Linked DNA regions of Homo sapiens: regions 2, 3, 4 and 5 are each reported to be linked to region 1. Evidence: microRNA targets listed by miRTarBase, many of them from high-throughput screens and not tested one by one. Region 1 holds a microRNA gene; each other region holds the end of a gene's coding sequence.

Region 1 (6,020 bases):
GCTGTTCCTAAATTATTCCGAGAAGCTTTAATTTCAGACCTAGATGAAAGCTGAGATTGTCAAAGGACTCTCACGGCACGCCGCACCGAAGTTCTCCCATTGCGAAGCCCGGGTTGTTTTATTGCAAAACTGCCGCGCATAGAATTTCTTTCATAGCAGGAAAATTTGTAATGGGCATCAAACTGGATGATTATTTTCCAAAGAAATAGGAAGTACATAGTCTTAAAAATCTAGAAACATCACGGATCAATAGCCACTCGATTTCATCTAGGCAACCGAATTACTAAATTGAGTGTTTCCCTTTTTAAGCAGTATTTTAACCTCTCTCATATCACGTATTTCATTTCTATTTAGAAAGCAATTTTAAACTGATCAAGCTTTCTGAAGGACAAGTTTAGATGATCCTAAACAGGTAGGATTAGGCTGAGGGGATTAGGTTTGCTCCTCTGAGGTAGTATGAATTCTAAAGGAATCAGGCAGGACGATTTTGCAGCCCTGGACCATAGCTGCTTTGTGGATTACGCAAGATGTGGATGCAGGAGATCAGCGCAATTGGATGAATACTGGAAGGAAAAAGCAAGGCCGCCATGATAACGTGTAATGCTTTAAATTCATTTCTGCTTCCAACGACTGCTTTTAATTGGCACAAGAGGAATATTCCCAATCCTTAAATTTTGTAATTCGAGCAGCCCCTATTTTCCAGTGTGCTTTACCCACCCACTCCGAAATTGGATAAAATTAAATATAAACCAAAGTAATCGATGAATGTGAAAGACCCGACTTGCAGAGTTCTAAAATTCGAGGACAGATAAAATCCGCCCTGAGGCAGGGGGTGAGAAGGCAGCTCTCTGAGGATATTGCACCTGGCCGCTTTATTTCATGAATTTTATGATACATCTACATCCCGTGTAAAAAAAATAACTTAATGAACACATGTCTTTTAGGTCATTGTCAATGCATGGCCCATTGTTATACCTGGATCAAAATCGGTGTTGCTGTCTCTATTGTCCAACCTGAATTATTTTGTCTGTTACTAATTTTAACACCCTTTATGTTTGTGAATTTATAGACAAACTCAAGCAAATGCATAGAAATTTCTTTTGAGAAATAGCCAGCCAGGGTGGCTACGAATTGGTTGATTTTCCGTCTCTCTCTCTCTCTCTCTCCCTTGCCATTTTGATTCATTACTTAGGGAATTTAAATTTGTATTGTTTACATTTAATACTTTCAACATCTAAGAACGATGAAATATGCTAAGAAATTTAGATTTTTGAATATATCAATACTGACTCATCCAACCTTCGATTTCTAAGGCGAATTTTCACTGCATAAGATTTAGTAAACCGCCCTGCCTCTTTCCGTCGCGTGAGCTATGAGGATGTGGCTGAGGTCGGTTTTTCCGCAGTGCGGGTTTCAGGCCTCCTGGCCCTCCAGTGCCTCCCGCCGGCTGGGATGCGCCGAGCAGGCTCCTGCGCAGCAGAGCGGTCTGCAGAGCTCAGCCCTCTGTACCCGTCTACTAAGGCTGCCGGGCTGCAAGGCCTGGCCGAAGGTGGCAAGCTGCATGGGCTCCTGCCCTGTTTCACCTGGTGGGTCCCCGACCCACCCCTTCCTAGTTAAGCCTCGAGGCCCACACTTGAGTCCATTGCACGTCCCTTTGGTGACCAAGTAAGCACTAAAATCCGCGGCTGAGGACCTTATGTTTCTGTTTTAAGGAAGATGATTTAAGAAAGAAAAGGATAATAATAAAGCCTTCATTCTCCTCAATTTCCTTCTTGCAATCCTGCGATTTAGGTTTCAGCCTAAATAAAGTGGAAATGGTTTCCCCATACACTTACAATGTATGTATGTGTGCATTCCTACGTGAAGACCAAAAAGTGTCAGGCAAGGGTAGCAACCAGCTTGAGGGAACGATTTCAGTAAAATATTGTTTTGCTGTATGTGACCTTTTTCTCTTTTTAAATGTTATTTTTCAAATTACCTAATATCCTACTCTTCTTTTGAGTAGGGACGGGACGGTCCTATTGCTTTTCCAGTTTGATTACGGAGAGAGAAAAGGGCCACGGTCAGCACCGCGGACAGCGCCAGGCAGGGAGGGCGCGGCTACTTTGGTGCATCCTCTTAGCTCCTCTCCTTTGTTCCCAACCCCTGCAGGCCAAGGCAGAACAAAGACATCAAGGCTCGCTTTTTCGGCCTGGGTTTTTCTTTGGCTCCAAAGTCGTGGTGCGGAACTGCTACCTCAACATAGTCCACCTCACTGGCTTCCAAACAAATTAATTTACCGAGTCCTTCTAAAGTTTCTGACCTGGTCCTTTCACCTTATCCCACTCCTTTGACCGATTTGGACATTGCGACAATGCCAAAACAAGAGAGTTATCTTGGCGTCTTAAAGCCAGGCATGAACGCCTCGAGATTGGGAAGAAAAAGGGAGAAGTCAAGGGGAAATGCGGGCGGCAAGTGTTCTTCAGATCTTTCCAAAGTTTGGACGTTTCATTTGCTGTTTCTTGCGCAGTGTGGTCAGGACGCTATTTAATGTTACACCTCTCTCTGCTGTTTTGTTTTCCCAGCTTGGCCCAGGACTGCAGACAATCACACTACCTGTTCTTGAAAGAACTAGTGCTTTCTAAATGATTTAACTCTCTGGAATATTTGCACAGGCGGGAACTACTGCTCTCCAGACAGCTGTCAATGAAGCTTCCCTAAAATTCTCCTCGGAGATTTGCCTGCGGATTTCCGCGGCTGTAATGGAAAAGTAGGAGCCTTTCCCTTTCGAACACTAGGTTGCTTCCAGAATCAGTCCTGGGTGGGGGTGGGGGGCATTTATGCGGCAAGAGATGGGTTCCTTTTACTACCCCCTAAATTCCCTGCAATTGCTTTTTCCCCTTTCTGACCCTGAGATGCTTTGGTGTCCTTCAAGTGCAGCCGTAGGCTCCGCTCTTGGCATTCACCGCGTGCCTTAATTGTATGACATTAAATCAAGGTCCGCTGTGAACACGGAGAGCAGAGCCTCTAATCTTGATCCGGAAAGTATAAGACCCACTGCGATTACCACTCTTCTCTCCCTGCCCATCCCCCTCTCTCCGCTCTGAGTCTCTACCCCTAGAGTCATAACTCATAAGCCCAGCTCCTGTCTCTGCTCATCTCTGACACATCTGCCAGAGCCGCTGTTAATTAGTCTGTTCCGTGGAAGTGTAGACGGTGCGTGTGCCTGCGTATACATATGCATATATCTCCATGCCATTTACAGCACACGCCTAAAAACATACATAAGCCTATAAATCTAGTTTTCAAATGACGGCGTGGATCCAAGTTAATTACCCCTCTGGTACAGATCTAATTTTGTAATCGTGTTATTTTACTGAATGCAATTAACCCAGTTGGTTCGCCCTGAATCCTTTCTAAGGCACTTGTAAGGAATGGCAGGTTTTTAAGGACCACGCTATTGCATGTTCTCCGTCATAACCATTGCCAATCATTTTCTGCTGTCAGGGATGAAATCTAGCATATAAAAGAGAAAACCATGCGTGTGTGCCTGTAAGATAAACACACAGATATGCCTGGGCTCTGTGTCCTTTGATAACGTTACCGCGGGTTTGGTTGGGAGATTTTGGGAAAAGAGAGTCCAAGGGCGGGCTGGGTCATCTTTCTTTGTAATGCGGAAAAATTAACTCATCCGCACCTGCCTAGTCCCGAGAGAGCTGGGCGGCCCATCTGGTCTGGCTACAAGTTTGCTGCGGAGAGAAAAGCCTGCTCACTAAAGCTTCCCCACTGCCCAGGAGCGCGGACCTCGGGTCTGGGCCCGGAAGAGGGATTAGGCTCAGGGCAGCGCAGCCGACTCGCACTCCTCAGCCAGTGGCCACAGTCTGGGGCTGGAAGCGCCTGGGCCGGGCGGAGGGAGGGCAAGCAGGAGAGAGAAAAGGGTGAGGGAAGTTGACCTCTACGGGCGGAGCCCTCTGCGCAGCGGGCAGGAGGCAGCGGGCGCGACGGCTCTTTTCACGGCGTCCCCTACGGCGTGGTCGACCCGAGGGAAAGGCCCGCTCCCGCTCCAGAGTCCGAGGAAAGGAGAGAGAGCTGAGAGCTGGTCTTGCGCAGAGACCCCAGAATGCGCCCCTGAAAAACAGAATCAAAGCGCAGTGTTAGGGAGGCGGGAGAGAGGAGGGGGAGGGTGGGGAGAGGGACACGAGGCGGGAGGGAGCATGCGAGGGATACAAGGTGACAAGAGGACAGGACCCCAGTCGGCCGGTCGCGACCTCCGTCCCCAGGCTTCAGGGGGACGCGGAGGGGACCCTGAGCCCACGGAGCGCGGGGCCCGCAGCCCGGGGGGAGGGGGTGGCGCGATGACTGTAAGCGCAGGTCTGGGCTGCGGAAGTCCAGAGGAGGGTGCATGCGCTGCGGATACTGCCGCGTCCAGAGAAACGATTTCGGGAGCTGGAGCAGTGAAAACGAGTCCGCAGATGGTCCTTCTGTGCAGTCCCAGCCGTTCCCGCATTCTGCACCCCCTTTCCCAGCCTCACCCCCTCCCTTGGACCACACGCCAGACCCGCACTCTCGAATCTCCACCCCTCTTCGTTTAGGACCCTGCAAACTGCAAGACCGGCAAGAGAATCGAAACGATCGATGAGAGAAAGAATTACATATACCCATAGCCCTAGAAATCCGGAGAGAGACCTGCTAGCCCTGTTCAAACCTGCAGAGGACCAAAACGTTTTCAATCGCTGCTCAGCGCGTTCGCAGAGGAAAGAAGAGGCTGAGAGCCTTCCGTGGTATAAGGTGCTTTAAGGTGGGAGGTGGGGGTAGGGAGGGGGTGGGTCGGAGCGGTCCGGTCTTTCCCCCTCGCTTGCTGATCCAGAATTAGGGATTAATGGCTCGCTCCAGCCAAACAAATAAGGCATCTGCCTTCAGCACAAGAGGATTACACGGGCTGCTGACGTCACCAGTCAGACAGATGTTGGCTCCCAAAGTCCTGAGCAGCTCGCTGTGTCCTTGAAACCAAAGAGCCGCAGAAGGCTCGCAGCCCCCAGTTGCAGAGCCTAGGTACAGCAGAGGGCAAGAGCCCTGCCCTTGCCGACAACCTCTTGGCGTCAACCCAGTGCCCGCAGGCAGCTCCCTAAGACGTCGAGCTTCCAGCCTCTCCAAGCGCTCCCTTCGCCGTCCTGCTGTCAAAACCCAGGCTCTCTCAAAACAAGCCAAAGTCACCGTTCTCAGTTGCCTCTCCCTAACATGGAGACAAACGCCCACAACCCAGTCGACACCTTATCTAGATCCCACATTTAAGCTCTCGGGCTCCTGTTCACTCACACTCGGTTGGCCAAGTAACAGGAAAATAAGCACCTTAGGCCGGACACAGCCCACGCTCCAGCTGAGGGACCGCCTCTTAATTATGTGCGCAAGCAGCAAAAGCAGAGCTAATCTGCATCTCCTCTTCTCAACCCCGCAGCCTGCCTTCCCCCGAGGCCAAGGTTTAGGTTTATGTTTAATCTTATCACGAATGCCATTCCGGACGAATGTGCCTTTCAAAACAATGACGCTTTGCCAACCTAACTCAGCGTCCCAACCAGAGCCCTGGACCACCACTCGGTGAACCACGGGGACCTCACCATGGTCCTGATTAGGACACGGAAAAAATGTCATTGCATATTCTTCTCAAGTACTTTGAATACGTTGTCTAAAACTAAAATATTAAAATAAGTATGTGTGTTCAAAATATATGTAGCATCTAATTCCAGCAACCTGCACATTCAAAGAACTGCAGTTTCATTTTATAGCCAAATCTGATGAATAAAGATCAAAAATTAATTTATTTATAAACTCCAAGGTCCTTTTAAATGATGTAATTTTAACTTAATTTTAATTATGAACTATTTTAATTCTTCTAACCTGCATATTGTTTTTGCTTTATATGATTTTCCAGGCCTTTACAGGTCACACTAAAGTCAGGTTATGAAATAAGCTAAAAGACACATCAAACTGGAAATTTAAATGAGCAATTTTGAATAAGTTATGTAATCCACAAATGAAATGGT
Region 2 (6,020 bases), not on the chromosome of region 1:
GGCATGGCACCCCAGACCTGGCCTCACCTGGAGGCAAGGCAGCCCCTAGATGGACCAGTCACTGCTTTGGGCTGACCAGGCTGGGAAGAGGGAGATGGGATGGGGCATAAGTTCTGCAGCTGCGAGCGTGAGCAGCCAACCCCAGCCCCAGCTGGGGACTGGGAGCACCAACCAGGAGAAGACACCAATCCAGGGGGCACCAGCACCGCCCGTGGCGGGAACCTGCTCAGCCGGGGGTGCTCACACGTGCTTGCTGGACAGATGTTCAGCAAACAAGAAGATTCCGTTTTTCCATAAAAACTGACTTATGTTGCCTTCTATCCACCAGAAATGTCTCCGTGGAGGTGGTAGATGTTCAGGGAGACCCTGGGACGCTTTGCAAACTGTAAAAGTTTGATCCATTTGTGGCTATTTCCAGTTTCATGTTTTTCCCCAAAGGCTCGATGCTCGTTAGATTTGGCGATGTGTGATCCATCAGGTCACTTCCTGAGTCTCCTGATCAAAGAATTCAGAATGACTCAGATGATTTTCCCAATTACTGAGTTCAGATTTGTTCGAGAAAGTCGGCCAACATTTCCCAGAGGCCTGCCGGGTGGTTCTATGCCTCCTTTATAGCTTCTGGAAAACTGAGGCCCAGGGAGGTCAATGGGCCAGGAGGTGGTGGGGTGGCACTCCACCAGATGGGGGCCAGGCAGAGAGGTCAGGAGCACTTCCCCAGGCGCCATCCTCCCTTCTGCCACGCGTTGCCTCTCCTTCCAGAACCTGGTCATGTTCATGAGCGACTTTGTGGACTGGGTCATCCCGGACATCCCCAAGGACATCAGCCAGCAGATCCACAAGGAGAAGGTGCTCATGGTGGAGCTGTTCATGCGGGAGGAGCAAGACAAGCAGCAGCTGCTGGAAACCTGGATGGAGAAGGAGCGGCAGAAGGACGAGCCGCCGTGCAACCACCACAACACCAAAGCCTGCCCAGACAGCCTCGGCAGCCCAGCCCCCAGCCATGCCTACCACGGGGGCGTCCTGTAGCTATGCCAGCGGGGCTGGGCAGGCCAGCCGGGCATCCTGACCGATGGGCACCCTCTCCCAGGGCAGGCGGCTTCCCGCTCCCACCAGGGCCCGGTGGGTCCTGGGTTTTCTGCAAACATGGAGGACCACTTTCTGATAGGACATTTTCCTTTCTTCTTTCTGTTTTCTTTCCCTTGTTTTTGCACAAAGCCATTATGCAGGGAATATTTTTTAATCTGTAGTATTCAAGATGAATCAAAATGATGGCTGGTAATACGGCAATAAGGTAGCAAAGGCAGGTGCTTTGCAGAAAGAATGCTTGGAAACTTGAGTCTCCCTAGAGGTGAAAAGTGAGCAGAGGCCCGTAGAAACCCTCCTCTGAATCCTCCTAATTCCTTAAGATAGATGCAAAATGGTAAGCCGAGGCATCGCGCAAAAGCTGGTGCGATGCTTCAGGGAAAATGGAAAACCCACGCAAGAATAATGATTGATTCCGGTTCCAAAAGGTGTCACCTACCTGTTTCAGAAAAGTTAGACTTTCCATCGCCTTTTCCTTCCATCAGTTGAGTGGCTGAGAGAGAAGTGCCTCATCCCTGAGCCACACAGGGGGCGTGGGAGCATCCCAGTTATCCCTGGAAAGCTAGAAGGGGACAGAGGTGTCCCTGATTAAGCAGGAAACAGCACCCTTGGCGTCCCCAGCAGGCTCCCCACTGTCAGCCACACACCTGCCCCCATCACACCAAGCCGACCTCAGAGTTGTTCATCTTCCTTATGGGACAAAACCGGTTGACCAGAAAATGGGCAGAGAGAGATGACCTCGGAAGCATTTCCACAGATGGTGTCAGGGTTTCAAGAAGTCTTAGGGCTTCCAGGGGTCCCCTGGAAGCTTTAGAATATTTATGGGTTTTTTTTCAAATATCAATTATATGGTAGATTGAGGATTTTTTTTCTGTAGCTCAAAGGTGGAGGGAGTTTATTAGTTAACCAAATATCGTTGAGAGGAATTTAAAATACTGTTACTACCAAAGATTTTTATTAATAAAGGCTTATATTTTGGTAACACTTCTCTATATTTTTACTCACAGGAATGTCACTGTTGGACAATTATTTTAAAAGTGTATAAAACCAAGTCTCATAAATGATATGAGTGATCTAAATTTGCAGCAATGATACTAAACAACTCTCTGAAATTTCTCAAGCACCAAGAGAAACATCATTTTAGCAAAGGCCAGGAGGAAAAATAGAAATAAATTTGTCTTGAAGATCTCATTGATGTGATGTTACATTCCCTTTAATCTGCCAACTGTGGTCAAAGTTCATAGGTGTCGTACATTTCCATTATTTGCTAAAATCATGCAATCTGATGCTTCTCTTTTCTCTTGTACAGTAAGTAGTTTGAAGTGGGTTTTGTATATAAATACTGTATTAAAAATTAGGCAATTACCAAAAATCCTTTTATGGAAACCATTTTTTTAAAAAGTGAATGTACACAAATCCACAGAGGACTGTGGCTGGACATTCATCTAAATAAATTTGAATATACGACACTTTTCTCACTTGAATGCTGTCTGCCTGACGTCTGCCTGGGAAACTCACAGGCCGTCCCCAGAGTCCAGTGACCCTGCAAACTCAGCACTGACGGACAGGCATCTCTTTCCTTTGGTGCCGGCCTGCGCATGGCTCTAAATGTTCTTGGGACTTCATCTTTCTGTACGTGTGTGCATTTGTGCATGCACATGTGTGTGCCTATTCATTTGCATGTGTTTTGCATGCATCATGTGCACGCATGTTCGCATTTGCTTGTGTGCATGTGCCTGTGTCTTTACATGTTTGTGTACATCACGTGTGTATGTATGCATTTGTATTTGCTTGTATTTGCATATGGGTGCAGGTGTGTGTGCATGTGGACACGTGTGCATATATGCATGTGTGTGTATATGTCTATGTGTGCATGCACGTGTGTATACAGTGCGTGTGTGTACTTGTGAATGCCTGTGTTTATGTGTTTGCATGGTTTATGTATGTATTATCCGTTCTCACACTGCTATAAAGAACTACCTGAGCCCAGGTGTGGTGGCTCACACCTGTAATCCCAGCACTTTGGGAGGACAAGGCGGGTGGATTGCTGGAGGTGAGGAGTTCAAGACCAGCCTGGCCAACATGGCAAAATCCCATCTCTCCAAAAAAAAAAGTTACATAAAAATTAGTCGAGCATGGTGGCGCACACCTGTCATCTCAGCTACTGGGGAGGCTGAGGCAGGAGAATCACTTGAACCTGGGAAGCAAAGGCTGCAGTGAACCGAGATCATGCCATAGCACACCAATCTGGGTGACAGAGTTAGACCCCATCTCAAAAAATATATAAATAAATAGAACTACCTGAGACTGGATAATTTACGAAGAAAAGAGGTTTAATTGACTCACACTTTTGCATGCTTAACAGGAGGCATGACTGAGAGGTCTCAGGAAACTTAACGATCGTAGCAGAAAGCAAAGGGGAAGCAAGCACGTCTTCACAATGGTGGAGCAGGAGAGAGCGAGCAAAGGGGACAAGTGCCACATTTTCAAACCATCAGATGTTGTGAGAACTCACCCACTATCACAAGAACAGCATGGCGGAAATGCGCCTCATGATTCAACCACCTCCCACCAGGTCCCGCCCTCGACACGTGGGGATTACAATTTAACATGAGATTCAGGTGGGGACAGAGCCAAACCATGTCAGTGTGCATCACCCCAGGGTTCACACACGTGTTTGCCTTTGCCTGTGTTTGTATATGCATATGTGCTGTGTGTGTGCATATGTGCCGGTGTGTGTGCATATGTGCTGGTGTGTGTGCATATGTGCTGTGTGTGCATATGTGCTGTGTGTGTGTGCATATGTGCTGGTGTGTGTGCATATATGCTGTGTGTGCGCATATGTGCTGGTGTGTGTGTGCATGTGTGCTGTGTGTATGCATATGTGCTGTGTGTGCATGTGTGCTGGCGTGTGTGTGTGCATGTGTGCTGGTGTGTGTGTGCATATGTGCTGGTGTGTGTGTGCATGTGTGCTGGTGTGTGTGTATATGTGCTGATATGTGTGCATATATGCTAGTGTGTGTGCATATGTGCTGGTGTGTGTGTGTGCATGTGTGCTGGTGTCTGCATATATGCTAGTGTGTGTATGCATGTGTGCTTGTGTGTGTGCATATGTGCTGGTGTGTGTGTGCATATGTGCTGGTGTGTGTGCATATATGCTAGTGTGTGTGTGCATGTGTGCTGGTGTGTGTGCATATGTACTGGTGTCTGAGTGTGCTTGTGTGTATGCACAGATGTACCACATATTCCTCTGTGTTTGTGTGTGTGTGTGTGTGTGTGTGTGTGTGTATGTTGGGATGGGGGATTGTGGTCACACTTTCTAGCAGGCTCTTCCAAGAATCCCATATCTCGACCTCTGATCCCACAACCCAACAGACTAGTATTTAGGGTTTCATGGACCCCAAATTTCTTCAAAACGTTTTGGGACTGACCTTGGGTTGTCAATGTTTTCATTTGGGCAAGTGGGGACATTTTTTTAGAACCGTCACCTATAATCACTATCACTTCATAAAAGAACGTATATTTTTAACAGCGTCAGCAAAGCAGTATGGCGCTTCGGGCTGGGGACAGTGTCCTTGTGCGGCCCTCGGCGTCGGCCACCTTCCCTTCACCGCCAGGACAAGGCAGGGCCTCTTTCGACCTGTGGCAGGCCTCGGGCGCCCCCTTGTGCTGGCTCTCCTCAGCACAGCGCCTTGCCACCTTGGTCAGGCGCATCCTCCTAAAGCTTGGGCCCCACATTCTCGATCCTGTAGGGAGGGCCCAAGGAGAACGGCACCCACTTTCTCAATCCTGTAGGGAGGGCTCAGGGAGAACGGCACCCAGGATTGGCATCGCGGGAACCCCTTCCCTCTGCCCTCCTGTCTCCATGGGTCCTCCCAGAGCCTGGGAGGGCACAGGTGGGGACCTTCAGCCACATCTGATAGATGAGGAAACAGGCTCTTGACCAAGATCTCAGGGCGCTTTAATGCCAAGTCTGAAGGCCAGACCTCATAAACATGTATGGAACATTCAAGAAACATTTATTGAACTCCTACTGTAGGCCAAGTGCAGCGGCTCATGCTGGTAATCCCACATGAGGGATTACTGCATTGAGAGGCCCAGACAGAAGGATTGCTTGAGCCCAGGAGTTCGAGACCAGCCTGGGCAACATAGCAAGACCCTGTCTCTACAAGAAATAAAAAAATTAGCTGGGCATGGTGGCGGGCACCTGTGGCCCCAGCTACTCGAGAGAGTGAGGTAGGAGAATCACTTGAGCCCAGGAGGTCAAGGCTGCAGTGAGCTATGATTGCATCACTGCACTGCAGCCTGGGCAACAGAGCAAAACCCTGTCTCAAAAAATAAATAAAAATTAGACCAGGTGCAGTGGCTCACGTCTGTAATTCTAGCACTTTGGGAGGCCGAGGTGGATGACTTGAGGCCAGGAGTTCAAGACCAGCCTGGCCAACAGAGTGAAACCCAGTCTCTAAGTAAAAAAAAAATATATATATATATATATATATATATATATATATATATACACACACACACCAAAAAAAAATGAACTCCCACTGTGTGTCAGGCACTAGGACGAGAAGGGTGAAGAACAAGGACACAGCCCCTTCCCTCCCACATGACATTCTCACAAAGGAAGTCCAATGCTGAACCAGAAAATCAACCGTGGAACCAGACAACTTCAGAAAAGGGAGCGCTGATGAAAATCCAGCAGGGAGTGTGACTGACTGAGGGTGAGTGACTACACTGCGCAGGGAGGCCCCTTGGGACTTGAGCAACAAGGAGCCAGAAACACACAACAGTCGGTGCACAGGCCAAGGCAGCAGCTGCTGGACGAGCTCCAGGAGCAGAGGGGCAGGGAGGTGACAGGAGACGCAGGAGAGGTGGCTAGAGACGACTCATGCAGGGCTCCGGCTGAGTGAAGACTTTGAACTTGGTGGTAGGTG
Region 3 (6,020 bases), not on the chromosome of region 1:
TTGTCTCAGGGAATAGGGAGTCCTGAGGAGAAGAGAGAGATGGCAGCCAGTGAGAGGAGCAGTCAGAACACACAATTTTTTTTTTTTTTTTGAGATGAGTCTTGCTCTGTCACCAGGCTGCAGTGCAGTGGCATGATCTTGGCTCACTGCAACCTCTGCCTCCTGGATTCAAGCGATTCTCCTGCCTCAGCTTCCTGAGTAGCTGGGACTACGGTCGCGTGCCACCATGCCCAGTTAATTTTTGTATTTTTAGTAGAGACGGTGTTTCACCATGTTGGCCAGGCTGGTCTCAAACTCCTGACCTCAAGGAATCCGCCCGCCTCAGCCTCCCAAAGTGCTGGGATTACAGGAGTGAGCCACCACACCCAGCCAGAACACACACATTTATCAGTTAAGTTCACCATCTTACATGGGTACAGTTTGTGGCACCCCAAAGCAATTATAAAAGTAACATCAAAGATCACTGATCACAGATCACCATAATAGATGAAGCAATGAAAACATTTGAAATACTGTGAGAATTAGCAAAACTAACAGAGACACATGCTGTCGGGAAAATGGCACAGATAGATATGATTGACACAAGGTTGCCACAAACCTTCAATTTGTAAAAAATGCATTATCTGTGAAGCACAATAAATCAAGTGCAATAAAATGAGGTATGCCTGTATAAGGGAGGATATGTATAGATTATATGCAAATACTATACCATTTTATATAAGAAACTTGAGCATCTGCAGATTTTGGTATCTGCAGAGGGTCTTGGAGCCAATGCATCATGGATACTGAGGGACGACTATACTGTGTTCATGGATTAGAAGACTCGCTATTGTTAAGATATGGTTAAATTCTCTCCAATTTGATCTATAGGTTCAATACAACCCCAATCAAAATCTCAATAAGCTTTTTTGTAGATATTGACAAGCTGATTCTAAAATTTATATGGAAAAGTGAAGGAACTAAAATAGTCAATTCTAAAAGGAAGAACAAAGTTGGAGGATTCACATTACTTGATTTCAAGACATATTTGGAAGGTACAGTAATCAACACAGTATGGTATGGGCAAAACGAAAGATATAGTTTAATGGAACAATAGAGACCCATATAATAGTCAACTGTGTTTGGACAGAAGTACAAAGGCATTTCAACAGAGAAAGGATAATCTTTTCAACAAATAGTGCTAGAAAAATTGGATATCCAAACACACCAAAAAATAAACTTTAACATCCTTACGCTTGGTACAAAAATTAACTCAAAATGGATCATAGAGCTAAATGTAAAATGTAAAACTATAAAACTTGAAGAAAATATGAAGAAGTTCTGCATGATCTTGTGTCTGGAAATGAATTTTCAGATAAAGCATCAAAAGCACAATCCATACAAGTAAAAGCTAAATTGGACTTTATCAAAATTAAAAACTTTTGCTCTGCGAAAGATACTCTTAAAATAATGAAGGTAAATTACAGACTGAGAGACAATGTTTGCAAATCATATATTTTATGAGGAACTTGCATCCAGAATAAATCTTGTAATTCTCAAAATAAGAAAAACAATCCAGTTTAAAAAATAAGATTTTGTACATACTTCTTAGAAGGTATACTCTGAAAAATATATCAAAAGATGCTCCATGTTACGAAACATTAGAGTAATGCAAATTAATACCACAATGACATAATCACTACACACCTATTAGAGTGGCTTGAATTAAAAAGTTGACAACACCAAGTGCTGCCGACGATGCAGAGCAACAGTCATTCACTGCTGCTGGCTATGGAAAAAATAAAGCCCCGTTGGAAAACAGCTTTTTTACAGAGTTAAACATACACTTACCTTATGACCCGGTAATCACACTCCTAGGTATTTCACCGAATGAACTGAAAACAAAACCTGTATATGAATATTTACTCAAAGCAGCTTTATTCATAATCACCAAAACCTTGAAACAACCCAGATGCCTACAACAGAGGAATGGATAAACTGCGATACATCTATGAATGGGATACCACTCAGCACTAAGGAAAAATTAACTTCTGAGTCACACAACATAGATGAGCTTTAAATGCACTTTCCTATGTGAAGAAGCCAGATCCAAAAGGCTACATACTATATGCTGCCATTTATAAGATTCTGGAAAAGGTGAAACTGAAGAATAGAGAACAGATCAGTGGTTACCAATGGTTGGGATAAGGAGAGGGGTTGACTATGAAGGGGTCACCCAAGTAAACTTTGGGTGACAAAACTATGGCACTGTGGTGACAGATTCATGAGTTCACACTTGTCAAAATCCAGACTGTTCACTATAAAAAGTGACCTGAATGCACAAATAAAATCAACCAGGATATAGGGGGGATTACAAGATGGAATGCAGGTCGTGATGAGTCTAGTTGTATTATAAAATATATGACATAACCCTTTTCAAAGAGGTGGGTAAGAAAGGGACTGACCTAGGTAACTGGAAAATGGTGTTTTGACCAGATACTGTAAGGCTACGGACAAAAAGAACTGTACACAGTTGCTAAATTTGCAATTCTGAAACTACGTTTACATTAGGATTGAACAAATAAGTAAATATAGATAATGAGAACCAGGTCTAGGTCAGAAAAAGCAGTTAAAAGCAAGAGGTGAATGTTAGAATGAATCCTGTGGTGCTGGATTGTGTCAGAGATGTCAGTACGAAGTCACGTTTATGTTCACCTATCTAGACTGATAAAGGCAGAAACATCATAGATATGTACATACATGGGTTGGTAGACATACACAGATCCCCTAGTTCCATCCACTGACAGGGCTTGTAATTTGCATAGCATCCAAATACTCCCCCAAATATTAATTACTGTGGTAATTTTAACAGGTGCTCCTGAATTCTTTGATACTCCTCCCTCCCACAGAGTTTACACTCCCTACCCTTTAGTACAGACTGGGCTTAGTCATTCACTTTTTTTTTTTTTTTTTTTGAGACAGTCTCGCTCTGTCACCCAGGCTGGAGTGTGGTGGCACGATCTTGGCTCACTGCAAGCTCCGCCTCCCGGGTTCACACCATTCTCCTGCCTCAGCTTCCTGAGTAGCTGGGACTACAGGCAGCCACCACCATGCCCGGCTAATTTTTTGTATTTTTAGTAGAGACGGGGTTTCACCGTGTTAGCCAGGATGGTCTCGATCTCCTGACCTCGTGATCTGCCCGCCCCGGCCTCCCAAAGTGCTGGGATTACAGGCGTGAGCCACCGCGCCCACCCTAGTCACTCACTTTTAACAGACTAAGAGGACAGGTAGCAACTTCACAGAGAAGAATGTGGCAAGCGCAGCCTTCATCCATTGATGGGGGTAGTCCATCCTGCTGGTGCCATGAGCCGCCTAACACGATGTGATGGGAAGGCACCTGACCACTGGCATGTTCTTCCTTAAAACCCACAAACTCAGTCTAATGAGAAAACACCAGACAAGCCCAAATTATGGGACATTCACAGAATACTTGGCCAGTACTCTTCAAGTGTCCAGGTCATGGAAAGACAAGGAAAGACTGAAGATCTGTCAGAGATATGAGGAGACTAAGGGAACACACAATGTGGTATCCTGGGTTGGCTCCTGGGGCAGAAAACAGAGTGGAAAACAGAGTGGAAAATGGGAGATTTGAATAAAGCCTATAGTCTAGTGAAGAGAGCCATTATCAATGGTTACTTTCTCAGCTTTGATGAAGGTTACCATGGTTATTAAGATCACATTAGAGGCATGTGGGTGAAGGGTGTATGAAAACTTTGTGTACTCTCTTTGCAACCCTTCTACAAAACAGTCATTTCTAAAGAAAACTGCAGAAGAAAATATTTACAGGTAATGGGCTCAAATTTAAATATTATTTAAAAGGACCCAGATATAATTGAAATTCATTGCTGGGTAGTGATAAATAGTTACTCATAAATAATTAAGTAATAAATGCCAGAGGAAAAAAATTGAAAGAACAGAAACAATCAACACTTACAGGTTCCATTCTGTTGCGATAAAGATATACAGGAGTAATTCAACTCCTTTAGGTCCATGTTCATAGTTGTCAGAATATAGACTATTTCTAACCACTATTTGATCTCTGTGTGCAAAGGTGATATGAAAAACTTCATATAAACTTTTTTTTTTTTTTTTTTTTGAGATGGAGTCTCATTCTCTCATTCAGGCTGGAGTGCACTGGCGCAATCTCGGCTCACTGCAGCCTCTGCCTCCCAGGTTCAAGCAATTCTCCTGCCTCAGCCTCCCAGGTTCAAGCAATTCTCCTGCCTCAGCCTCCCAAGTAGCTGGGATTACAGGTGCATGTCACCACACCCAGCTAATTTTTGTATTTTTAGTAGAGACAGGGTTTCACCATGTTGGCCAGGCTGGTCTCAAATTCCTGAGCTCAGGTGATCCACCCGCCTTGGCCTCCCAAAGTGTGGGGGGCGTGAGCCATAGCACCTGGCCATAAACTTACTGTGAATGATTATGGCCTAGTTCATGGCTTTAAAAATAAATTAAAGCCTACTACCTGAGCATTCTGAGCCTCACAGGGATGCTGGCTCTGCATCCTGCCAAATGTGTTCCCGAGGGGAGTACAGAGACGGAAAGCGGCACAGAGGCTGATGACCCCTCTTCATTCGGAACCTTTGCCTCAACCTCCCTGGTCTCCATATGACTCAAGGGTATGAGTGTTCACAGATGATCGCTGCTTTAACTCTGCTTTATCATAGTCCACACTTCTGACAAAAGGCGTTTCTAGGAAATAAATTCTCTCTTAAAAAATCCATTGTTTTATTTCCACAATTGCTTAAAATATTTTATTAAAGGAAGAATACAATTTAACAAAAAGTGTTTATTAAAGGGGAAAATATATAGTAATATGTTTAAGGCACATGGCAAACTTTTGGCATTAAATTGCAAGAAAAAAGAAATACAAATTATCACAATAAATTTCAGAATCTGTTTCTTTAGTCCAAATAGTTTTTTTTAAAAAAGTCTGAACAGCAGCAGCAGTTCACTAAGGAAGGCACATCATGGCTTGGTATCTCCGTGCGAGAGCAGCTGCTGCCTGGTGTACTCCCAGATCAGCAGGGCTCCACTCACATGGACATTCAGGGAGCGGATAATGCCCTGTTGAGGAATTTCCACACAAACGTCCAACTGTTGGATCAGATTTGCTGGAATTCCCTCACGTTCATTTCTGAGGAAGAAAATGGAAGAAAGATTAGTTTTCCTGTAACAAACAATTTTTCTCTTTGATATTCTTTTTATTTTTTGTTTATTCACTTATTTTTCTCTTTGATATTCTGAATGTTACTAAAAGAAACATTAACAAATGAAGTTAAGTCTGTAGTACCGGGAAATAAATAAGAGTGTAAAAAAAAAGACTGATGGGTCAATTCCATGTTCAGCTGGCCATGCCAGAGAGATGAAATAAAAGGAAAGCCCAGGGAGCTTCTTATAAATGTTACAAATCAAAGAAAAGTGCAGGTATGAGCAGGAGTCAGGGTAAACTGTAAAACAGAAAAGTAACATCTTCTAGCCAGGCACGGTGGCTCACGCCTGTAATCCCACCATGGAGGCCAAGGCCAGAGGATCACTTGAGGTCAGGAGTTCGAGACCAGCCTAGCCAACATGGTGAAACCCTGGGTCTCGTGGAGCATGCCTGTAATCCCAGCTACTTGGGAAGCTGATGCCTGAAAATTGCTTGAGCCAATGAGGCAGAGGTTGTAGTGAGCCGAGATTGTGCCACTACACTCCAGCCTGGGCTACAGAGTGAGACTCCGTCTCAAAAACAAAAAAAAACAAGGTAACATCTTCCAGTAGTCTGGGGCTCAGAGAATATACTATGGACACAAGAAGCTTCTTACCCCAACAAGAGCAGAGATTTCTCAGGAAAGCAATATTGGGTTAGGTCTAAACTTTTGGCAGTTTGTTCCACTCCAATGATGGTATAACCTTCTGTTTTCTTCTGCTGCAGATAATCAATTAGCTGAGGTGGTTTTACCTGAATATTAGTTTAAAAAGAACAGAATATTCAT
Region 4 (6,020 bases), not on the chromosome of region 1:
CAGCCTGGGCAGCGGAGTGAGACCTCATCTCTTAAAAAATAAATAAATAAAAATTAAAAAGAGCAGGACTGATCTGATTCATCCCTGGAGTCTCATTTCTCAGCACAGGACTGGATTCAAGAAGGGAGAGGCTGGTTAATATCTGTATGTCTACCTTTCTAGAAGAATTGACCAGACTTGGATGTCAGGAGACAGTCGAAGGAAAGTCCTGCCTGATTATGGCAGCGATGGTCATCCCGGAGATGGGGAACAGAGAAAAATGCTTTGAGTGTAATATGACAGAGTTTGGATGAAGGAGTTCCTTAGCTTGTATTCCTCTAAAAGGAGACCCTGAGATGAGAATTTGTGTGCAACGACTTTCCTGAGGAGGTGATTCCAGTATGGACTGTGATGGTGTAGGGAAGAGAAATGAAACAAGGAGAAAAACCAACAAAGCATGTGTTTCTTTGTTTTGAGACAGGGTCTTGCTGTGTCACCAAAGCTGGAGTACAGTGGTGTGATCACAGCTCACTGCAGCCTCGACCTCCTGGGCTCAAGGGATCCTCCCACCTCAGCTTCCCAAATAGCTGGAACTACGGGCACGCCACAACACTTGGCTAATTTTTGTATTTTTTATACAGATGGGGTTTCACTGTGTTGCCCAGGCTGGTCTCAAAATCCTGAGCCAAACTGCCTCAGCCTCCCGAAGTGCTGGGATTACAGGTGTGAGCCACCACGCCTGGCGTAAGGGTGTGTCATTTGTCAGGTTACCACAAAGAGCAGTTGGAGCCTCATCCCAAAAAGGACACTCTGAGACACTGTGAAGAACACCCCATAGCAATGTTCCTTGAGGGGCCAGGTGGTTGGGGTATCTATTCCCTGATTTGTGTCTGTCACTGGCTAAAAGCTGCAGAAATGTCCACACACTTCAGGCCTGCTGAGAACACGGAGCACACTCCCTCCTCCCAAGAACAGCCTCAGACAAGAAACTCCAGAAGGAGCTGCAAGTCAGGGTATCTGGAAACTGTCACAGTATATGACTTCCAAGGTGGGCCATGCAGGTATATGGGTGGGGCACCCACAGTGTCTGCTTCAGAGGGTGATGAGTTTAAAGTGCCTGAGAGAAATCCAGTGCCAAGTGTCAGAGGACACGTGTGTGTTACAGACATTTCAGATAAGGTCCCTTCACCACGGCCGTCAAAGGCCTTCATGATGTGACATCTCCTTCCTCTTTGGCCTCCCCATTGCTGGCTCCAGTCCAGCCACAGTGGCCTTCTTTCTTCCAAGGCATCAGACTCTCTCCTCCTCCCTGGCCTTTGCACCTGCTTCCTGTCTGCCGGGAATGCTCTCCTTGGCGCCTTGCACAGCTGGCTCCTTCTCCATGTTCGGCTCTCAGCTGAGACCTTACATTTTACTACCTGGTGAAAGTAATCTCTTCCCCACCTCCCCTAACTTAGTTCTCTATTTCATCCATTGTACTCTCTCTCTTTCCTTCCTTCCTGGTTCCTTCCTTCATTAACAAACACGTATGGAGACTGGCTATGTACTGGACCTGTTCTAGACACCAGGGAGAAAATGGTCAGCAAAACAAATGCACTGCCTGCTCTCGGGAGCTTCTGTTCCGGTTGCAGAATCAGACAGAAGCCAGAAACAATAAGGTCCAGGTGTGGTGGCTCATGCCTGTAATCCCAGCATTTTTGGAGGCTGAGGCAGGGGAATCACCTGAGGTCAGGAGTTCGAGACCAGCCTGGCCAACAAAGTGAAACCCCGTCTTTACTAAAGATATAAAAATTAGGGCTGGGTGCAGTGGCTCACGCCTGTAATCCCAGCACTTTGGGAGGCCAAGGCGGGTGAATCACCTGAGGTCAGGAGTTCGAGATCAGCCCGACCAACATGGAGAAACCCCGTCTCTACTAAAAATACAAAATTAGCCGGGTGTGGTGGTGCATGCCTCTAATCCCAGATACTCGGGAGGCTGAAGCAGGAGAATCTCTTGAACCCGGGAGGCAGAGGTTGCAGTGAGCTGAGATCACGCCATTGCACTCCAGCCTGGGCAACAAGAGCGAAACTCCATCTCAGAAAAAAAGTAGCCAGGAGTGGTGGCACAAGCCTGTAATCCCAGCTACTCAGGAGGCTGAGGCAAGAGAATCGCTTGAACCCAGAGGTTCAACCTCAGGAGGCAGAAGTTGCAGTGAGCCCAGATGGCACCACTGCACCCCAGCCTGGGCAACAGAGCGAAACTCTGTCTCAAAAAAACAAAAACAAAAACTCCTACTTGCAAGAGCACTGCATGCTAGGAAGGAACTAGGGAGGGGCCGTGGCACGGAAACCAGGGAAGCATTGGCTTTAGCTAGGCGGTCGGGAAGGTACCGCTCCTTCATCACGCATGTCACCTTTGTACTTGGCTGTCATCTGTCTCCGCTACTAGACTTCAGCTCCCTGAAAGCAAGGGTCATAGCTGCTTGGTTCCCCATTGTCTCCCCAGAGCCTGGCACAGGAGTGCTCAATAAATATTTGGTGAATGAATGAATGCCAATTTGGGCATCCTCAAGATAGGGAGGTGATTACAGGCTGGGGTTGGGGGTACATTCTTTGGGGAGAATATGTGGAAGGGGAAGAGCAGGAGACCTGGGAAGACCATGGGAGAGGAGCCTTAGAGAGGAAGAGATCTGGGGGCCTGGGAGAGGCTGGGGCCATGGACGCCTCACCTTTTCCTTGTGCCCATACATGCTCCCTGCGGCTTCTAGCTCTTCCTGATGAGCTGGAAAGGGCTCTGAGGACCTATCATTTCCAGCACCAGAGGTCCCTAGAGTCTAGACCCAGGGGACCACCCTGGGACTTAGGGACTCAGATGGAACCTGAACTTCTTCACACCTGAAACCCTTGGCTCCATCTTCCACACCTGAAAACCCCTGGCCCCATCCTTCTCTGCTAGGACTTGGCTCAGGTCTTGGGTGTCAGTTACTCCAGGATGCATCCCTTGACTCCCAGTCTGGGTTAAGAAGCCACCTTCTGGCTTCTACAGCCCCCAGTGCTTCCCTCAGTCACAACCTGGCCACACCAAGTGTCATCCTCTGTCCAGGTATCTGCCTCCTCAGCCTGGGGCTCTCCAGGGCAGTGAGCCTGACTCATCTCTGGACCCAGCACCACCCAGCACAGGGCTAGGCCGGGAGAAGCCTCAGGTGGTGGCAGACAGGCCAGCAGGGACAGTAAGTAATGGCTCTGAGTGCGCTGATTGTTCTGCCTTGACTGGGACACCTGGGGGTGGGAGTGAGAAAGGGTTAAGCTGAGGCCGTAACTACATGAAACATTCAGGTGATCCAAGATGTTGTGGGTCAATAGTAAGAGGGAAGCTGTACCTTAGTGCCCAGAACCAAAAGGTGAGCACAGCTGGCACTCTGAATAGAGCTCCATCCCTCAAGGCCCTTTAATAGGAGAAAAAATCTGGGAACCAAAGGCAGTGCAGGAGGGGAGCAGATTAAGTTCTTTCTCTCTCCTTCCTTCCTTCCTTCTTCCTTTCTCTTTCTTTCTTCCTTTCTTTTCTTTCTTTTTTTTTTTTTTTTTTTTTTTTTTGAGACGGAGTCTCGCTCTGTTGCCCAGGCTGGAGTGCAGTGGCGTGATCTCGGCTCACTGCAACCTCTGCCTCCCAAGTTCAATTGATTCTCCTGCCTCAGCCTCCAGAGAAGCTGGGATTACAAGCGTGTGCCACCATACCCAGCTAATTTTTGTATTTGTAGTAGAGACGGGGTTTCCCCATGTTGGCCAGGCTGGTCTCAAACTCCTGGCCTCAAGTGATTCACCCGCCCTGGCCTCCCACAGTGCCAGGATTACAGGCATGAACCACTGTAAGCGCTTATTTCAAGAATAAAGGGAAGGGCGGGCACAGTGGCTCACACCTGCAATCCCAGTACTTTGGGAGGCCAAGGCGGGAGGATCGCTCAAGACCAGGAGTTCGAGGTTGCAGTGAGCTATGGCACCACTGTACTCCAGCCTGGGCGACAAAGTGAGACCTCATCTCTTAGGACAAAACAAAACAAAACAAAATATAGAACTGAAGAAAGAGTAATGAGGGCGGGAATATTCGGTGGGGCCCCAGTTGGAGCTCTTGTCCTGGCTCTGCCACTATCTGTACAGTCCTGCGCGAGTCGCCACACTTTCCAGCCTCAGGCTCATCTGATACTTGAAGTAGGAAGTGCAGGAGTGGCTACCTGCAAGGGCTGAGGCTGCAGGTCCCGCTGCGGCCACAGGGCAGTGACCTAGAGACGGCCGGGGACAGAGCCAGCGCGGGGGTGGGGAGTCAGGGCCAAGCTCCTGCGCGCATTCAGAGACAGCACCAGGGAGAGGTGGAATGCGTGTGTTTATGTAGGTAGAAAAAGTGCACAGAACAGTGAGGGTGCAGGGAGCAAGGACGTCCTGGCCTGGCCTCCGATTCGCTGGAATTGCAAGGACCCTCCCCCAGTAAGGGGGCTCCCTCAAGGGTGGGAATAGAGTGGAGGCCCGCACGGGAGTTCTTGTCTGTGTGCAATCCACTTTGTGGGCGTGTGGGTTTAGGTCTGGCTGGGCCGTTTCTGAACTTGACCCCTGAGGACTCATAGTACCTTAGGGGCGGGGCTCTCCAGTGGGTGGGGCCTCCCGCTCTGAGAGCAAGGCCTCGGGGTCTGGAGGACCCGGCTTTTCCGGGAGGGCGCGGCCTCCGGGGGAGAGGGCGAGCCGAGCGGGCTGTCAGCCGAAGAGCTTCAGGAAGCAGGGCTGGCAGTAGGGCTTGCCGGCGCGCTCCTGGAAGGACCCCTTGGTGAGCGGGCGCAGGCAGAAGGTGCATGTGAAGTGGTCCGGGTGGAAGCGGCGACCCAGGGCCGACACGCAGCGGCCGGTCACAGGGAGGCCACACGTGGCGCACAGCGAGCCGCGTCGTGCGTGGAAGTGGTTCTCGCACAACGGGCGGCCCTCGTGCTCGAAAAAGCTGCCTCCCGAGAAGGGCGCGAAGCATTCCTGGGGAAGGGAAGCCGCGAAAGAGGACAGACAGGTCAGCGGCCACTGCCAGACAACGCGCGTTACTAGCGGATAACGCCCTGGGACCCCGCAGCCCGCCCTAGACGCGAAGAATCCCGTCCGGTGGGACCCTGCCCGGAAAACTCGCCCCACCCGAGGTTCCTAGCAGCACCTCCCGTGACCCGCCCCCCCGAGGGCCCGCCCCCTGCCCTGCACCCTTGACCCGCCCCTCCAAGGCCCCGCCCCACAGCCCTGTACCCTTGACCCGCCCCTCCAACGCCCCGCCCCGCAGCTCGCACCCTGCAGACGAAACAGTCCGGGTGCCAGAGCGCGCTGAGCGCCGAGATGTAGTTATCCAGGATGGGGCCCTGGCAGCCCTGGCAGCGCGGGGCGAACAGCTGCAGGAAGTCCCGGCGGCAGTAGGGGCGGCCCTCGCGCTCGTGGAAACCTAGGAGAGGGAACCGAGTGGGCTGAAAGCAAAGGGTGCGGGCGGGACGGGGGACCCACAAGACCTGAGATCTGGGGCCGAAGGAGGGGCAGTCCGAGGGAGCCTTGGGGAAGGAGGAGCCGGGTCTATGGCGGGACAGAGCGGGGAGGGCTCGGGTCCGGAGTCTGTGTAGGAGAGGGCAGGGCCAGAAGAGAGCAGAAGGAAAACCATGGCCCTGAGGACTCCGGAGGTCGGAGGGGCTGGGGCGAGACGTCGAGGGGACCCGCAGCTTTTAAGATGGGAGTCGAGTTCACTCTCACCCTCATCTCCGAAGGGCTCCCCGCAACTGACGCAGCAGAAATGCTCTGGGTGCCAGTGAGTGCCCAAGGCGGTCACCATCTTCTGCAGGGAGGGAGAGGGCACTCAGCGCGGCCTCCGTGCCTTCGCGCCTTCCTCTCCCGCGCGGAACCCGGGTGACTGGACTAAGGCATGCGTGGGGGGAGGGGGAGAAGATCTAACTAGGAACGTGGGGGTCAGAAAGGAAGAGTGGAGTCCAAGGGGCCGTGGACATTGCCAAGGGGAAGGGGTAGGGGTGGAGTGGGGTATCGCGGGTGGGGCGGGACCC
Region 5 (5,234 bases), not on the chromosome of region 1:
GCAAAGGTAAAGTTAACCCAGGGCTCTGTGGAGTGTGCTGGGTTGTCCAGAAGTTCACCTGGAGTCCTGGTCTGCCAGGCTTTAGGCACAGGTTTTACGTTAGAGACGACGGGGGAGTCTGGGCAGTCTTTGGCAAACATTCATTGGAACCTGCTCTGTCTGGCTTTGTGCTAGACCCTGGGAATGCAGGGATGAAAACCGGGGCTGCTTGTGGGTAGGGAGTGAGGGTGGGAATGGGTGGCTTGTGCGCCTGCCGTGACGCAGCATGGTGGGTGCCACGGTGGGAGCCGCTGTAGGGAGGGACTGGGCCTGGTGTGTTAGGCTCACCGAGTGTGTGTGACAGAAACCCAGCTCAGGCTAGCTGAAGTAAAATTAAAAGTAAAAATTAAAGGAATCCAGCACCCTTGAGCGTAAAACCACTGGAGAGAGTGTCGGATCTGTGCTGAATTCCGGGGAGTGCCTCTTAGTACCTGGGTGGTGAGGGGAGGTCCCTCAGCTTATCTGAGCCTCTGTCTTCCTATCTGAAGCAGTGGGGCTGGTAGAGGTCGCTGATGCCCCTTGTAGTGACTATCCCCCCGGGCCATGGCCATACCTGGCCAGCAGCCCACTGCCTGCTGTGAGCTTGGTTTCTGTATAGTTCCAGGTATTCCTGAAGCAGATCAACAGCTCCCTGGTGGACTCCAACATGCTGGTGCGCTGTGTCACTCTGTCCCTGGACCGATTTGAAAACCAGGTGGATATGAAAGGTACATGAAAGGCAGGCTGTCAAGGCAAGTCATGCAGGGTAAGAATGCTGGCATCAGACACCCTGTCTCCAGCAGGGAGACAAGAATGACTGAGGGAGCTGCACCAGATGCCCACGTGGCCGGCCTCAAGGTGGCGGCTTCCAGGGCAATTGGCTTTGCTGCCTTGTTCAACACTTTAATAAGGTGAAAATCCATTGTTGCTAGCAAGATGCAAAGAAAACCAGAAAAAGACCTTCCTCTTCTGGGCTGGTATTGCCTGGCACGATGAGTTGGCCCCCTCGTCCTCAGTGTGCTGTGCGTGGCATCGCAGGTGCCCTGTGGTGCAGCAGGCATCTGAACCCTCCTGGACTTGCTAACGCACTTCCATGTGTATGCGCACGCGTTTCCTTTTTTTCCTAGGAGAGGGCTTGTGGCATCCAGCAGATTCTCCTGAGGGTTTGTGACCCCCCCACACCCCCAAAAAGTCAGGCACTTGTTCCTTGTCACGGTCACTGTCATTGATAGCAAGAAGTATCCCGGTTGTTGGTAATTTAGCCGTTTGCTTCCTTTTTCTGCCCCAGAGGGTCTGTTTCAGGGGAACAGCCACACAGATTTTGGTACCTTCGGTTATTGCCCTGCCTCCCAGTTGTGCGGGAAGCAGTTGCTCCGACACTAGTGGACGGAGCAGAACCTGTGCCTTGTGGTCTCAGCACTGGGCCGGACTCACCTGAGAGCTGGTGTGGAAAACCAGTTGCGCTAGGACCTCTGCAGAAGGAGTGGAACTTTTGCGTTGTTTTTCTTAATGCAGCGTCATGGATCCATCTTCCTGTGGAGGGAACTCTTCTGTGTGTGATATGGAGGGCACGGGTCTGGAGCCAGTCTGGGGAGGGCTGAGGGAGAGCTGCCCTGAGCTTGGTTCTGGAGGATGAGGTGGGGTGCTCCTGGGCACTCTGAGAACATGGCTTTGCCTGGTAGCAGGACAGCTGGAGGTCCTTCTTTCTGCCACAGTCAGCTTTCGTTGAAGCTGTTTTGATGATGAGCTCCTAGCTTCAGAGTCAGGACCCAAGCGGGGCTCCACGAAAGGCCTGGGCGACCCAGCCACTGGGCCTAAGCCTGACCTGCTGCACCCCTGCCTCCCTCCACAGTTGCCGAGGTACTGTCTGAATGCCGCCTGCTCGCCTACATATCCCAGGTGCCCACGCAGATGTCCTTCCTCTTCCGCCTCATCAACATCATCCACGTGCAGACGCTGACCCAGGTGAGAGGCCCCGGCAGACACACAGCAGGGAAGGTCGATTGGAAACCACTTCCTTTGTCCTGGTGCCCAGCAGGTTTCTGTCCCCCACTCCAGAAGTGCGTCTCTGGAGACCCAGCTCTTCTGAGGACTGTGCTCAGGAGGAATCAGTGTCCCATTGTACAGACAGGGCCTAAGGAAGGAGGGCTCGCAAGTGCCCTCAGGTCACAGGCTGACTTGCAGGCCAGTGCTCTCCCCGCCTCCCCCATGTCCACGTCCCTCACACCTTCTGCCCTGCTGGGCTTTGGAATCGGACCTGAGGCTGCCCAACTCCCTCACTGAATAGTCATGCAGCCTTCCCTTCTCTGAGCCTCCTGCCCCTCTTTTCTAGAGTGAGGGTGATCTTAGCACCTCTCAGAGGTGGTCTTTGGTTCCGTTCTGAGGTGAAGCACCAGGTGGGAGTGCATGGTGAGTGGGGCAGAACTCTTTCCCCACCGAGGCGCGCAGGCTAGTGCTGAATGGCACTTCTGAAGCGGGATAACCGCCCCAACACACGCACCCAGCCCTGCCTGGGACGGACCTTCCGGAAGGAGTGATGCTTGAGCCCAGGTCTGGACAGGGACAGGTGTTGTTGCCTCAGGTGGGGTGGGAGGTGGGCGTGGGGAAGAGGAAGGTGCTCAGTCAGGAAACTGGGGCTGCTGGGGGCCCCCTTCCCCCAGTCCTATCTCACCTCTGTGCAGGGAGAGCTCTGTGGGTGGCCCGAGGCCTGGGGCCACTCTCCTCCCTGCCTGATGGCTACCCAGGTTCACCAGGGGCCACTGGGGCTCCCACCAGCCCCTGACCCTGTGGGCCTGTGGCCTTGCAGGAGAACGTCAGCTGCCTCAACACCAGCCTGGTGATCCTGATGCTGGCCCGACGGAAAGAGCGGCTGCCCCTGTACCTGCGGCTGCTGCAGCGGATGGAGCACAGCAAGAAGTACCCCGGCTTCCTGCTCAACAACTTCCACAACCTGCTGCGCTTCTGGCAGCAGCACTACCTGCACAAGGACAAGGACAGCACCTGCCTAGAGAACGTGAGTGCCCCACCCTCAAGGGGGTGATGGGTGGGCCGCGGACCCAGGGCCTCTCAGAGGGGTGTCCCGGTGCTGGGCTTGACCTGGGTCCTCCAGGCGCCCCCCAGCCCCTCCCTCTTTGCCCAGAGCTCCTGCATCAGCTTCTCATACTGGAAGGAGACAGTGTCCATCCTGTTGAACCCGGACCGGCAGTCACCCTCTGCTCTCGTTAGCTACATTGAGGAGCCCTACATGGACATAGACAGGGACTTCACTGAGGAGTGACCTTGGGCCAGGCCTCGGGAGGCTGCTGGGCCAGTGTGGGTGAGCGTGGGTACGATGCCACACGCCCTGCCCTGTTCCCGTTCCTCCCTGCTGCTCTCTGCCTGCCCCAGGTCTTTGGGTACAGGCTTGGTGGGAGGGAAGTCCTAGAAGCCCTTGGTCCCCCTGGGTCTGAGGGCCCTAGGTCATGGAGAGCCTCAGTCCCCATAATGAGGACAGGGTACCATGCCCACCTTTCCTTCAGAACCCTGGGGCCCAGGGCCACCCAGAGGTAAGAGGACATTTAGCATTAGCTCTGTGTGAGCTCCTGCCGGTTTCTTGGCTGTCAGTCAGTCCCAGAGTGGGGAGGAAGATATGGGTGACCCCCACCCCCCATCTGTGAGCCAAGCCTCCCTTGTCCCTGGCCTTTGGACCCAGGCAAAGGCTTCTGAGCCCTGGGCAGGGGTGGTGGGTACCAGAGAATGCTGCCTTCCCCCAAGCCTGCCCCTCTGCCTCATTTTCCTGTAGCTCCTCTGGTTCTGTTTGCTCATTGGCCGCTGTGTTCATCCAAGGGGGTTCTCCCAGAAGTGAGGGGCCTTTCCCTCCATCCCTTGGGGCACGGGGCAGCTGTGCCTGCCCTGCCTCTGCCTGAGGCAGCCGCTCCTGCCTGAGCCTGGACATGGGGCCCTTCCTTGTGTTGCCAATTTATTAACAGCAAATAAACCAATTAAATGGAGACTATTAAATAACTTTATTTTAAAAATGACTGCTGTGGACCTGGCTTTTGTCCCTAGGACTGTGTTTTTCCTCCTGAACCCCAAAGAAAAGAATGAGAAGGAAACTGGCTGTGGTGTTTATTCAGGGCCCAGGGAAGGCTGAAGGCAGCAGGGGGCGATGCAGAGATGGCAGGATCGGGGCAGGTGGCCTCAGCCAGATGTGCAACAGCAGACATTCCTCTTTAGAGCCCAGGGGGTCAGGCCGTCACTCCTTGTGCTGAGGAGAAAGGGATAGCTGAGTGAGCAGTACTACCTGTCAGCCCCCACAGTCCCCCTGCACAGAGAGCAATGCCCCTGCCACTCCTCACCTTGGGGCCCAGGGCGTCCCGGGTCCGTGCCCGCAGCTTGTTGGCCTGGGTTTCCGCCATGTCTGCCCGCTCCTCCGCATCATCCAGCTCGTGCTGGGCCTTGCGATACTTGGCCAGGTTGGTGTTGGCCTGCTGCTCCTGGGGGCACACACAGGGCCTTGGTTCCGCTTGGGTGACTGAGATGCTTATTCTGGTCCCTGCCCCAGTCCAAGAAGGGAGCTAGCTCCTCCTGGTTCTCAACTTTGTTCCTATTGCCACTGTCCATCCTCACCAATACCACAGCGGGAATAAGGAAGTTGGGACGCACCAACTTCATGTGCCTTTTTGTGCCTGCCCCACCCCTCAGAGGCAGCCCCAGCCTTGGCCAGGGGAAAGCACATGGGGTCTGTTCCATGAGAAGGAGCTAGGTCTGATCTCCCCAGAGATGTTAGAAGCTTCTCTCTTCCCTCTGGGTCACTGACCTTGGAGGGTGGAGCTGCTGCTGATGCCTCACCTGGCCACAGACCCTGGGGCAGAGCTGGGGTGCCCGGTCCAGGTGTCCAGGCCCCAGCGCACTCACCGCCTCCTCAAACTGGCGCTTGTAGCTCTTGACCTTGCTCTGCAGCTTGTCCACCAGGTCCTGCATGCGAGCCAGGTTCTTCCTGTCCTCCTCGGCCTGGGCGGGCAAGGGGGACTCAGGGCTTGCTTGGGCTGGGCCAGCTCCAGGGCCACTCCCCAGGGAGACCCTGTCGCCCACCTGGTATGCGAGCTCCTTGACACGGCGCTCATGCTTGCGCACGCCCTTAAGGGCCTCGGCGTGCTTCTTCTGCTCTGCATCAAGCTCAGCCTCCAGCTCCCGTACCTGCAGGCAGGGGGACAGCCTGATGCCAAGCCCACCCC

Evidence for each region. Region 1 holds the annotated microRNA hsa-miR-124-3p (UAAGGCACGCGGUGAAUGCCAA, at 2,935-2,956, opposite strand). A microRNA usually pairs through its seed, bases 2 to 8, with sites in the 3' UTR of a target mRNA and lowers its output. Matches are read on the target gene's strand: a 7mer-m8 pairs with bases 2 to 8, a 7mer-A1 pairs with bases 2 to 7 and ends in A, and an 8mer does both.
Region 2: miRTarBase lists ANO1 as a target of hsa-miR-124-3p. The part of its 3' UTR that is shown has no 7-base or 8-base seed match.
Region 3: the mRNA of TARBP1 is a reported target of hsa-miR-124-3p. Seed matches in the 3' UTR shown: 7mer-m8 at 5,003-5,009 and 8mer at 4,864-4,871.
Region 4: the mRNA of TGFB1I1 is a reported target of hsa-miR-124-3p. The part of its 3' UTR that is shown has no 7-base or 8-base seed match.
Region 5: the mRNA of MYH7B is a reported target of hsa-miR-124-3p. The part of its 3' UTR that is shown has no 7-base or 8-base seed match.

The regions. Positions count from the first base shown.
Region 1 is chr8:64,376,146-64,382,165 of GRCh38, reverse strand. MIR124-2 (microRNA 124-2) reads right to left here and starts at 3,017; the gene lies at 2,909-3,017. MIR124-2HG (MIR124-2 host gene) reads right to left here. Exons shown (of 3, transcript NR_109792.1): 2 at 3,677-4,107; 3 at 1-563. RefSeq lists an enhancer at 5,023-5,600.
Region 2 is chr11:70,186,979-70,192,998 of GRCh38, forward strand. It overlaps ANO1 (anoctamin 1), which reads left to right. Exons shown (of 26, transcript NM_018043.7): 26 at 760-2,552. The coding sequence ends at 1,026. Among named protein-coding and RNA genes, the nearest start is that of FADD, 13 kb to the right of the region's middle. RefSeq lists an enhancer at 4,935-4,994.
Region 3 is chr1:234,386,567-234,392,586 of GRCh38, forward strand. It overlaps TARBP1 (tRNA guanosine 2 -O-methyltransferase TARBP1), which reads right to left. Exons shown (of 30, transcript NM_005646.4): 29 at 5,850-5,986; 30 at 4,747-5,179. The coding sequence ends at 5,011. Among named protein-coding and RNA genes, the nearest start is that of COA6-AS1, 16 kb to the left of the region's middle.
Region 4 is chr16:31,476,258-31,482,277 of GRCh38, reverse strand. TGFB1I1 (transforming growth factor beta 1 induced transcript 1) reads right to left here. Exons shown (of 11, transcript NM_001042454.3): 9 at 5,716-5,797; 10 at 5,268-5,416; 11 at 4,320-4,968. The coding sequence ends at 4,702. Among named protein-coding and RNA genes, the nearest start is that of SLC5A2, 3.9 kb to the left of the region's middle. RefSeq lists a silencer at 5,152-5,241 and enhancers at 4,535-5,267, 5,268-5,999, 6,000-6,020.
Region 5 is chr20:35,001,207-35,006,440 of GRCh38, reverse strand. MYH7B (myosin heavy chain 7B) reads right to left here. Exons shown (of 45, transcript NM_020884.7): 42 at 5,092-5,196; 43 at 4,915-5,010; 44 at 4,356-4,493; 45 at 4,004-4,264. The coding sequence ends at 4,253. TRPC4AP (transient receptor potential cation channel subfamily C member 4 associated protein) reads left to right here. Exons shown (of 19, transcript NM_015638.3): 15 at 1-6; 16 at 638-746; 17 at 1,871-1,983; 18 at 2,825-3,031; 19 at 3,158-4,037. The coding sequence ends at 3,295. Among named protein-coding and RNA genes, the nearest start is that of MIR499B, 13 kb to the right of the region's middle.